Linked DNA regions of Homo sapiens: region 1 is linked to region 2. The links come from fine-mapping of genetic effects on gene expression. A gene starts in region 2. The other region holds a variant in brackets. All regions are shown on one strand. Distances are from middle to middle. Region 1 overlaps ACSF3 (acyl-CoA synthetase family member 3). Region 2 holds the start of ZNF778 (zinc finger protein 778).

Region 1 (4,381 bases), 120 kb after region 2:
AGCGGGCCACTGGGGCTGTGTGCAGAAGACCACTTCCTCTGTGTCTCGCAGGCGCCAGCCGGCAGGACGCCAAGGCGCAGCCCAGGCGCCGGAAGGTGAGCACCACATGGGGCAGCATTGCACTGACAGGCGGCCGAGCTGGAGAAAGGCAAGGCACAGGACGTGAGTGCCCAACTGTCCCATCCAAACGTGGCCAAGACAGGATTTAAAACACCTCCCCAGTACCCAGCCAGGTACGCCTGCTGCACCTTCAGTCATGAGGCAGCGCACCAGACAGGCCACGTCCAGCCTTTCTCACCCACACTGCTGGAACGTTCCGTACGTGCCCAGCATCTCAGCTTTCTATTTCACTTCATGAGTTTAAGGATTCCCAAACCACACAAAATTCTAAACAATGAAATAAACTAGGTAAAACCAAGGAGAAGCATATAAAATTCAACACACTTAAGGTACATCTGAATAATGGGTTTTAGAATCCTGAGCCTGGAAAACCACCCGTGAGAGGGGGAAGTGCAGAGAAGAGCTCAGCACAGCCCCCGCTCACAACAGGCATGGCCTGGAGACCCCGCCCCCGGGGCAGACACGGCGCTGCCTCTCTCAGACCCTTCCCACACTGGTGCGCAGTGGAAATGTGGTGAGGTGCCAAGGTTCGTTTTTTTGAGACAGGGTCTTGCTGTGTCGCCCAGGCTGGAGTGTAGTGATGCAATCATGGCTCACTGCAGCCTCGACTTCCTGGGCTCATGCCATCCTGTGGCCTCAGCCTCCCGAGTAGCTGGGCCCACAAGCATGTGATACCACACCCAGCTTTTTTTTTTTTTTTTGGTAGAGACAAGGTCTCACTGTATTGCCCAGGCTGGTCCAAAGTCCTGGGGTTATGGCAGGTGTAAGCCATGCTTTTTTCCTTCTTTTCTTTTCTTTCTCTCTCTCCTCTCTCTCACCTTTTTTTCCTTTCTCTCTCTCTCTTTATTATCTATCTGGGATGGAGTCTCACCCGCTCTGTCTATCTATCTATCTATCTAAGATGCAGTCTTGGTCTGTCACCCAGGCTGGAGTACAGTAGTGTGATCTGGGCTCACTGTAACCTCCGCCTCCTGGGTTCAAGTGATTCTCCTGCCTCAGCCTCCTGACTAGCTGGGATTATAGGTGCGCACCACCATGCCTGGCTAATTTTTGTATTGTTAGTAGAGACGAGGGGTTCACCATGTTGACCAGACTGGTCTCCAACTCCTGACCTCCGGTGATCCACTCACCTTGGCCTCCCAAAGTGTTGAAATTACAGGTGTGAGCCACTGCACCCAGCCAAGCCAAGCTTTAAATCAGGCAATTCACAGAGCTAGAAAACGTGTTTTAGGTTGAACTATAATTCTCTCCTTTCCCCCCAAAAACTTAACTACTAAATAACAAATAAATCAGCAGGAAGCGAGGGCTCCCTGGGAGGGGTCGCGCGGGCCCGCCGTCCACTGGAATTCTTCATTCAGAGAAAGGAGACCGAGAAGAAGCCAGGGTGCCTCCGCCTGTGGGCCCAACGCTCCTGACGCGTGAGGGCTGGTCCAATTCTGCAACATGCATTCTGCAGCCAGAGGACACTGCCCACGGGACACCGCCCCAGGATGCGGACACAGGCCAGGGGCACAGCCCCCGCATTCCAGAGCGAGAAGAAGGGGTGGCACTCTCCACGAGGCTCCTGCATCCCTGGCCCTTTATAATCAAAGCTTTGCTCGACTCACAGTAAGAATAGGCTGGTCTGCCTCCCTTCCTGGGGGAAGCACCCTCTGGGCTCTGCTGCCACTGGGCACTCAGCGGCCCTCGGTCTGACAGCGTCCCAGGCCTGTGGCCGAAGCGTAGTCAAGTTGTCCGTTTGGTTTTCAGGGACTTTGAACAAGTATTATTTTGACAATGATGCTACCGTCTAATACACACATATTAGGTTAGGTTTCATCTCAGCATTTTGCCTCAACCACACTCTGTTCAGTAAACAAACAAGGCAACCACTTGTTCGCACACAGAAAAGCAAAGGAGGCCAAGTTCAAACTCACCCAGCTCCCGAGCCAGAGAGAGGAGGTAAGGGGAAGTTCGCAGTTCACAAGAGCGGCAGGCACAGCTGCTTCAGCAGGTGGAAGGGCACGATAAGGTGCAGGCAATGCAAATGCTCATCCTCCTGGGGCAGGCACCAGGCCTGGCGCTGGAACCCGGAAGGCCGGTGGGACACCTGTCAACGGGCATCTGTGCTGAGGTCCCAGGCTGTGTGTATAACGCTTCCCACAGGCACAACACTCAACACTCAATGGGGGAAGGGAAGCATGTTCATTTACAAGCTAAAGACAACATTATCAAATAAAGCTGTGAGCCTTATCTCCCGACAACGGGCAGCAGTGACCCCATGACCCTGTCGAGTCTCCTCC[C/A]ACACACCACGCCCCCTCTGTGGGATCTGTGCCCATGTTCAGCAGGTTCTCTCTCTCCAGCACATCTCTTTCATTAACTTGTGAGGGGAAAGCTACTGTGTTATTGTCTGTGGTTTGTACTAAACAGTTTTGTTTTCTGCTCTTAGTTTGAAACCGTCACAACACTTCATAGTTGTCTAACAAAACAAACTTCATGACAATGAAAATTGTCAGAGCCAAAGTATGTTTTGTGCTTGAGACCCTCAACTACTGGCCTTGGTTTTTGCTTGTTTGATTTGGGTGTCTGGTTTCCCCACTAGCCTGGGGCTCTTTTGTTTTTTTTTTGAGACGGAGTCTCGCTCTGTCACCCAGGCTGGAGTGCAGTGGCACGATCTCGGCTCACTGCAAGCTCCGCCTCCCAGGTAGCCTGGGGCTCTTAATGAAGTCCCCTGTCCCAGCCAGCTGAGGGATCTCCTGCCTCTGGCCCAGGCAGGAGGAAAACGAGCCACGCAGGGCCCTGAACCTCAGCACAGCTCCGCGGGCTGCTTGGACGTCCTGTGTGAGTCTTCTCTGAATCCTACCAAACGGTCAGTCCTGCAGGCCACATCATCTCCTGACGCGAGGCACCCATGTTCTAGAAGCCCTCCACAGCTGTTCAGAGGCAGGGCAGTGGCTGGTCCGCCCACACACCTGGACTCTGCTACCATAGAGAAACCCAGAGAATGGCAAGAAAACAACTGGGCTTCACCAGACACAAGACACGAGATCGGCACGTGGGCTGTGCCAGCTTCAGAAAGCAGCAAACCAGGGCGGCCCCACCACGCTTCCTTCCTCACTTCCAACCGATCCTGCACTGCTTTACAGGTGTGAGGGCACAGAAACAAGGAGAATCCACACACAGAAAACCGACTGGGCACTGGGTGCTCTGGGTTACGGCCCCGAGGCCAGACTTCCGCTGCTGAGAGCCACAGGGAGTGCCTTGGGTGCTCGGAGCAGGGGACGGTGCTTTCTGGGGTGCTAAGGAGCGGAGCACTAGGACGGCCGGCGACACTCACTCAATATAGAAGGTGCCTGTCATTGTGTGTAGCTGTTTCTCAATATGACAGAAGCACATAAAAGGGGGATGACGGCTTCCCTCTAACTAAAGCTGCTGCTCAGAAAAGGTTTCTGCAGACCACAAAGAACCGAGTTCTGACAAAGCGAGTTCAAGCTCGTGCTGTGCACACGGTAACCACACGCTGAGCACACGCTAACCACACGCTGAGCACACACAGCACACACTACCAGAGCACAGCCCCCCTTTTGGCATTTCTACAAATTCCTGAGTCACCCCGCAGGGCGAAGCCACGGAAGAATAAGAGTGGATTCCCCACAAAACCCAGAGCTCAGCAGAGCTGGTGATGCTGACGTGCACAGCTGGGCTGGGCAAACTCAAAGTGCAGGCTGAGAAGAAACTGCTGTTCTCCTGCGCGGAATCCAGAGCGCTGCCTGTGGGTGGGCACTCCTGCCACCAGCCCCTGGGAGGTGACAGATGTGACTGGCCCCGTGTGACATGGTCCCAGCTCCCAGAGAGCCCACGCGCTATGAGGAGAGGCCACGGGCAGGAGGAACGGACGGGGGCCTGGTGGGGAGGCTTCCTATGGAGGGTGAGAAGGGCCTGGCCTAGCCAGAGTCGGCCGAGGGAAGGGGGGAGTCCTGGCACCTACAGCTGTGTTCACTCGGGGTGTCTAGGGCACAGATGCCGGGAAGTCACATTGCTGGGTCATCTTTAATTTTGAGAAATACTGACAAAGTCCCCTCCAACGAGGTGCTGATTTATTCTCCCACCAAGCATGTGGAAAACGGAACCAGCCCCATCAAACCAGCTTTTCAGTCCCTCAGGCTTGGGACAATGAAGTGCCCAGTCATCAGTTCTCTTCAGCACAGAGGTTGAATCTTCACGGTCATCGGATCAGAGCCCTGCCTCGAACACGCAGACAGAGCCTACTCAGGGCAGATGG
Region 2 (4,388 bases):
ACAGCTAACATGGGACATGAGGTGACTAAGGCTGAACTCAGCCATCTGAGACCTCGTGGACCCAAAGGCATAAGGTGCTTACTATCCGCCCTTTGCCAACCTCTCCTCTGAATTCAATTACAAGTTCATAGGAAGCAGCAAGAAATGGAGGAATATTTAAACGTATCACGAGAAAACAACACCAAAGTCAATATGATAGAGAAACCACAGGGGTTGTTCTAGGTGAAAAGACATAAACGATGGGAACAGATAAACCTTGAAGGGCTCTTAGTCCCCAAAATACCCAACAGCGCAATGTTGGAAAAATGTTGAGAATCCTAGATATTACACAAAGTAGACAGTGGATGACCTCCTTCTTATTTTTTTATTTTTTTATTTTTTTGAGACGGAGTCTTGCTCTGTCGCCCAGGCTGGAGTGCAATGGCACGATCTTGGCTCACCGCAACCTGTGCCACCCAGGTTCAAGCGATTCTCCTGCCTCAGCCTCCCGACTAGCTGGGATTACAGGCATGCGCCACCATGCAAGGCTAATTTTGTACTTTTAGTAGAGACGGGATTTCTCCATGTTAGTCAGGCTGGTCTTGAACTCCCGACCTCAGATGATCCACCCGCCTCGGCCTCCCAAAGTGCTAGGATTACAGGCGTGAGCCACTGTGCCCAGCGGACCTTATTATTTTTAATTATTATTATTATTTTTTGAGACGGAGTCTCGCTCTGTCGCCCAGGCTGGAGTGCAGTGGCGCCATCTCGGCTCACTGCAAGCTCCGCCTCCCGGGTTCACGCCATTCTCCTGCCTCAGCCTCCAGAGTAGCTGGGACTACAGGAGCCCGCCACCACGCCCGGCTAATTTTTTGTATTTTTAGTAGAGATGGGGTTTCACCGTGTTAGCCAGGATGGTGTCGGTCTCCTGACCTCGTGATCCACCCGCCTCGGCCTCCCAAAGTGCTGGGATTACAGGCGTGAGCCACCGCGCCCGGCCTAATTTTAATTTTCTTAGATGAAATACTAATATTGTGGTTTCAGTAGGATAATGTCCTTACCCTTAACAGACGCTTTACCAAGTATTTAAAGGTTAAGTATCATGTGTGCAGTTTAATTTCAACTTACTTACACTCAAATAATAATTCACCGTAAGGTTTATTTATTGGGGGAGAGAGAAAACATGGCCCAAAGCTAAAAAGGAGTAAAACGATTGCAGTGGATATTCCTTGTAGCAGATGTTCACATTTTTATTAGATTCAGATTTTCTAAAGCAAAACGTGAGAAAAAATACAGTTAGTCGAAACACACTGTTCACCGTGGATTCGATTACTCCAAGACCAGCGGGACAACGGCCGCATCCCTCCCGCCCCGAGGGCCGGGCCTGGAAGTCCCGGCGGCGAGGGACGCGCGCTCCCGCTGGCCCCCACGGGCTAACTTTCACAGGGAGCTGCACGCCCGGGGCGCTCAGGGGTCTACCTTACGCTTCGGTCCCAACACAATGTGCCAGAAACAAATAAAAAACGTCAAAGCCGAAGCCAGATTCTCACAGAAACACGCCCTGTTCAAAGTGAAGGAAGCAAAGGGCCCCTCTCTCACCAGCTCCGCGGAATGGAAGCGCTGCCCGGGTCTACCGCGAGCGGCGGCGACTTTCCCTTCTGGAAGCGGTGCCGGGGGCGCAAGGCGCGAGGCAGGCGGGCGGGCGCCCACTCCCGGACCAGCTTCCCCGCGGACAGCCCGAGGACACGCGCGGAACTCTCCGGCGCCAGCACGCACCGCCGCAAGAACCGGATCAGCTGTAAGACAGGCGGAGGCGGGGCCGGCGCCGGAAGAGGGGCCGGCGCGTCTTTGGCGTCACTTCCGCCTCCAGCCTCCGGGCCGAAGCTTTGGCCTATGGTGCGGGGAGGTAGTAGTTTCTTCCGCGAGGGTGCGGGAGGGCCCCGGGGCGCCCTTGGGAACCGGGCTGGAGGCAGAGACAGGCCCGGAGGACCAGGCGGACGTAAGGATCAGGCCTCTGGACGCAACTGCGGAGCCGGAACAGACCAGGAGGGCGCGGTTGGGCGGGTACAGCCAGGAAGTGCTCGTCGCGAGCGCGGCCCGCGGTTCGGTCACAGCGAGAAGCCCGCGGGTGCTGGGAGTGCTCGGTCTTCTCTCGATCTCTGCAGGGAGTCACTGGCCCCGTTCCTTTTTATCTGTCTGAACATCACGCCGAACTTTTAACAGTTGATTCCACTGCATTTTCAATGTGGTATTTTTTTTTTCTGTAAATGTTCATCTATTTTTCGCTTCAAATATGCGTTTCTGTTACTTTTCTAATGTACCGTAGGAGCCAAGACCACCTATACTACGTTGCAAAATAGCACTGATACCAGGGGTTCTCCCAAGGTTCATTCAGAAATGTCACATGATTCCAGTAACAATACGAAAAGGTTTTTTTTTTGGAACCAGGCATATTGATCCTGGAGTTCACATGGAGGAACAAATGTCTCATAACGCAGACGACGCGGACAAACAAAAGCGCAATGCCCGACAGATGCGAAAACAGCCTCTGTCATTAAAACTGTGTGCTAGTGACACATGAACAGGAAACAAATGGAATATCCAGACATCAACCCAGTAACATGGAAATTTGGTTCATAAACATAATTTCAGAGCGGTGGAACAAACATGCAGTTTATAATGAAAGGTGCTAAGACAAATGGTTAGCCGTCTGAGAAATGATGAAATTAATTCTGGATCTCACAGGGATAAACTCCAAACGGATCAGGAGTCTAAATGTGAAAAACAAAACAAAACCACATGTGAAGTGTTCACGTGATTTCGTGGCTGATTAAGAAACAAGATGTGCCCAGGAGGTGGCGGTGGCGCACAAGCTTTGACAGGTTGGAGGGTGAGGGAGTCTCACGCACCATGAGATTACCCACAGGCTTCGAATTGGGGGTCACTACTCAGAAAAGAGAAAAAAATGAGCGTGGGCGGGGGGCGCGCAGAGAACTCCCAGAGAAGAAGGAGATCAGACAGGGGGAGGGCTGACGTGACTAGATCACGTTTCTCAGCAGCCTGACAGGTGTCTGAGTCACAAAGCTCTGAAGGGCAGCAACGGCTTGCAGTCTTTAGAGCCCCAGGATTTATCTTATCTATGGCTAGCAGAGATTGGACACAATTTCACGAAGTATACAAAGCAACCACATGCTAAATGGTTCAACACTATGAGTGTTTGGGATGTGTTTTATTTATTATTTATTAATTTTGATACGGAGTCTCCCTCTGTCGTCCAGGCTGGAGTGCAGTGGCACGATCTTGGCTCACTGCAACCTCCGCCTCCCAGGTTCCAGCTATTCTCCTGCCTCAGCCTCCCAAGTAGCTGGGATTACAGGTGCCCACCTTGTAATTTTTAGTAGAGACGGAGTTTCACCATGTTGGCCAGGCTGGTCTCAAACTTCTCACTTCAGGTGATCCACCCGCCTCGGCCTCCCAAAGTGGTGGGATTACAGACGTGAGCCACTGCAGCCACCGTGCCTGCCCTTGGGATATGTTTTTTTTTCTTTTAATTTTGTTTTGTTTTGTTTTTTTGAGACGAAGTCTTGCTCTGTCGACCAGGCTGGAGTGCAGGGGCACAATCTTGGCTCACCGCAACCTCCGCCTCCCAGGTTCAAGCGATTCTCCTGCCTCAGCCTCCAGAGTAGCTGGGATTACAGGCACGTGCCACCAAGCCCAGCTAATTTTTGTATTTTTAGTAGAGATGGGGTTTCACCATGTTAGCCAGGATGGTATCTATCTCTTGACCTCGTGATCCTCCTGCCTCAGCCTCCCAGACTGCTGAGATTACAGGCGTGAGCCACCGCACGGATATGTTTTAAGTAACTGAATGTATTAAAATTTGACTTTGGCACCAGCAGGCTATTGTGAATAATGTTGCTTTGAGCATCGTGTGCAAAAATATCCTGGACCCTTGTTCTCAGCACTTTTGGATATATATGCAAAAGTGGAATGGCTGGGTCACATGATAATTCTGTCTGATGTTTTGAGAAACCACTGTCCTGTTTTCCAGAGCTGCTGCACCATTTTGTATTCCCATGAGCAGGTGCACAAGGTTCCAACTTTACCACATCCAGCCAACAGTTACCTCCTATTTAATGGCTAAGAGCCATCACCACCGGGGTAATGTGATCTCACTGTGGCTTTTGTTTTCATTTCCCTAATGTTTAGTTATGTTGATCATCTTTTCATGTTCTTATTGGCCATCTGTTATCTTCTTTATTATAAGTCCTTTTCTGAATTAAATTGGTTTTGTTGTTATTCTTGAGTTATAGGAGTTCTTAATAAACTGAATATTAATCCTTAAGCAAACACAAGATTTGCAAATATTTCCTCCCATTCTGTGGGTTTCCTTTTCACTCTCATGATTG

Evidence for each region. PIP is the estimated chance that this variant, and not a neighbour inherited with it, causes the effect.
Region 1: its variant is fine-mapped to the expression of ZNF778 in sigmoid colon (GTEx, PIP 0.95).

Annotation. Positions count from the first base shown.
Region 1 is chr16:89,096,419-89,100,799 of GRCh38, reverse strand. ACSF3 (acyl-CoA synthetase family member 3) reads right to left here. Exons shown (of 11, transcript NM_001243279.3): 2 at 2,037-2,209; 3 at 1-138. The coding sequence starts at 118. Among named protein-coding and RNA genes, the nearest start is that of ACSF3, 4.8 kb to the right of the region's middle. The variant C/A (reference allele first, on the strand shown) is at 2,403.
Region 2 is chr16:89,215,101-89,219,488 of GRCh38, reverse strand. ZNF778 (zinc finger protein 778) reads right to left here and starts at 1,786. Exons shown (of 7, transcript NM_001201407.2): 1 at 1,579-1,786. It overlaps ZNF778-DT (ZNF778 divergent transcript), which reads left to right and starts at 1,836. Exons shown (of 1, transcript NR_186410.1): 1 at 1,836-4,329. RefSeq lists enhancers at 370-899, 900-1,430, 1,955-2,004, 2,954-3,248.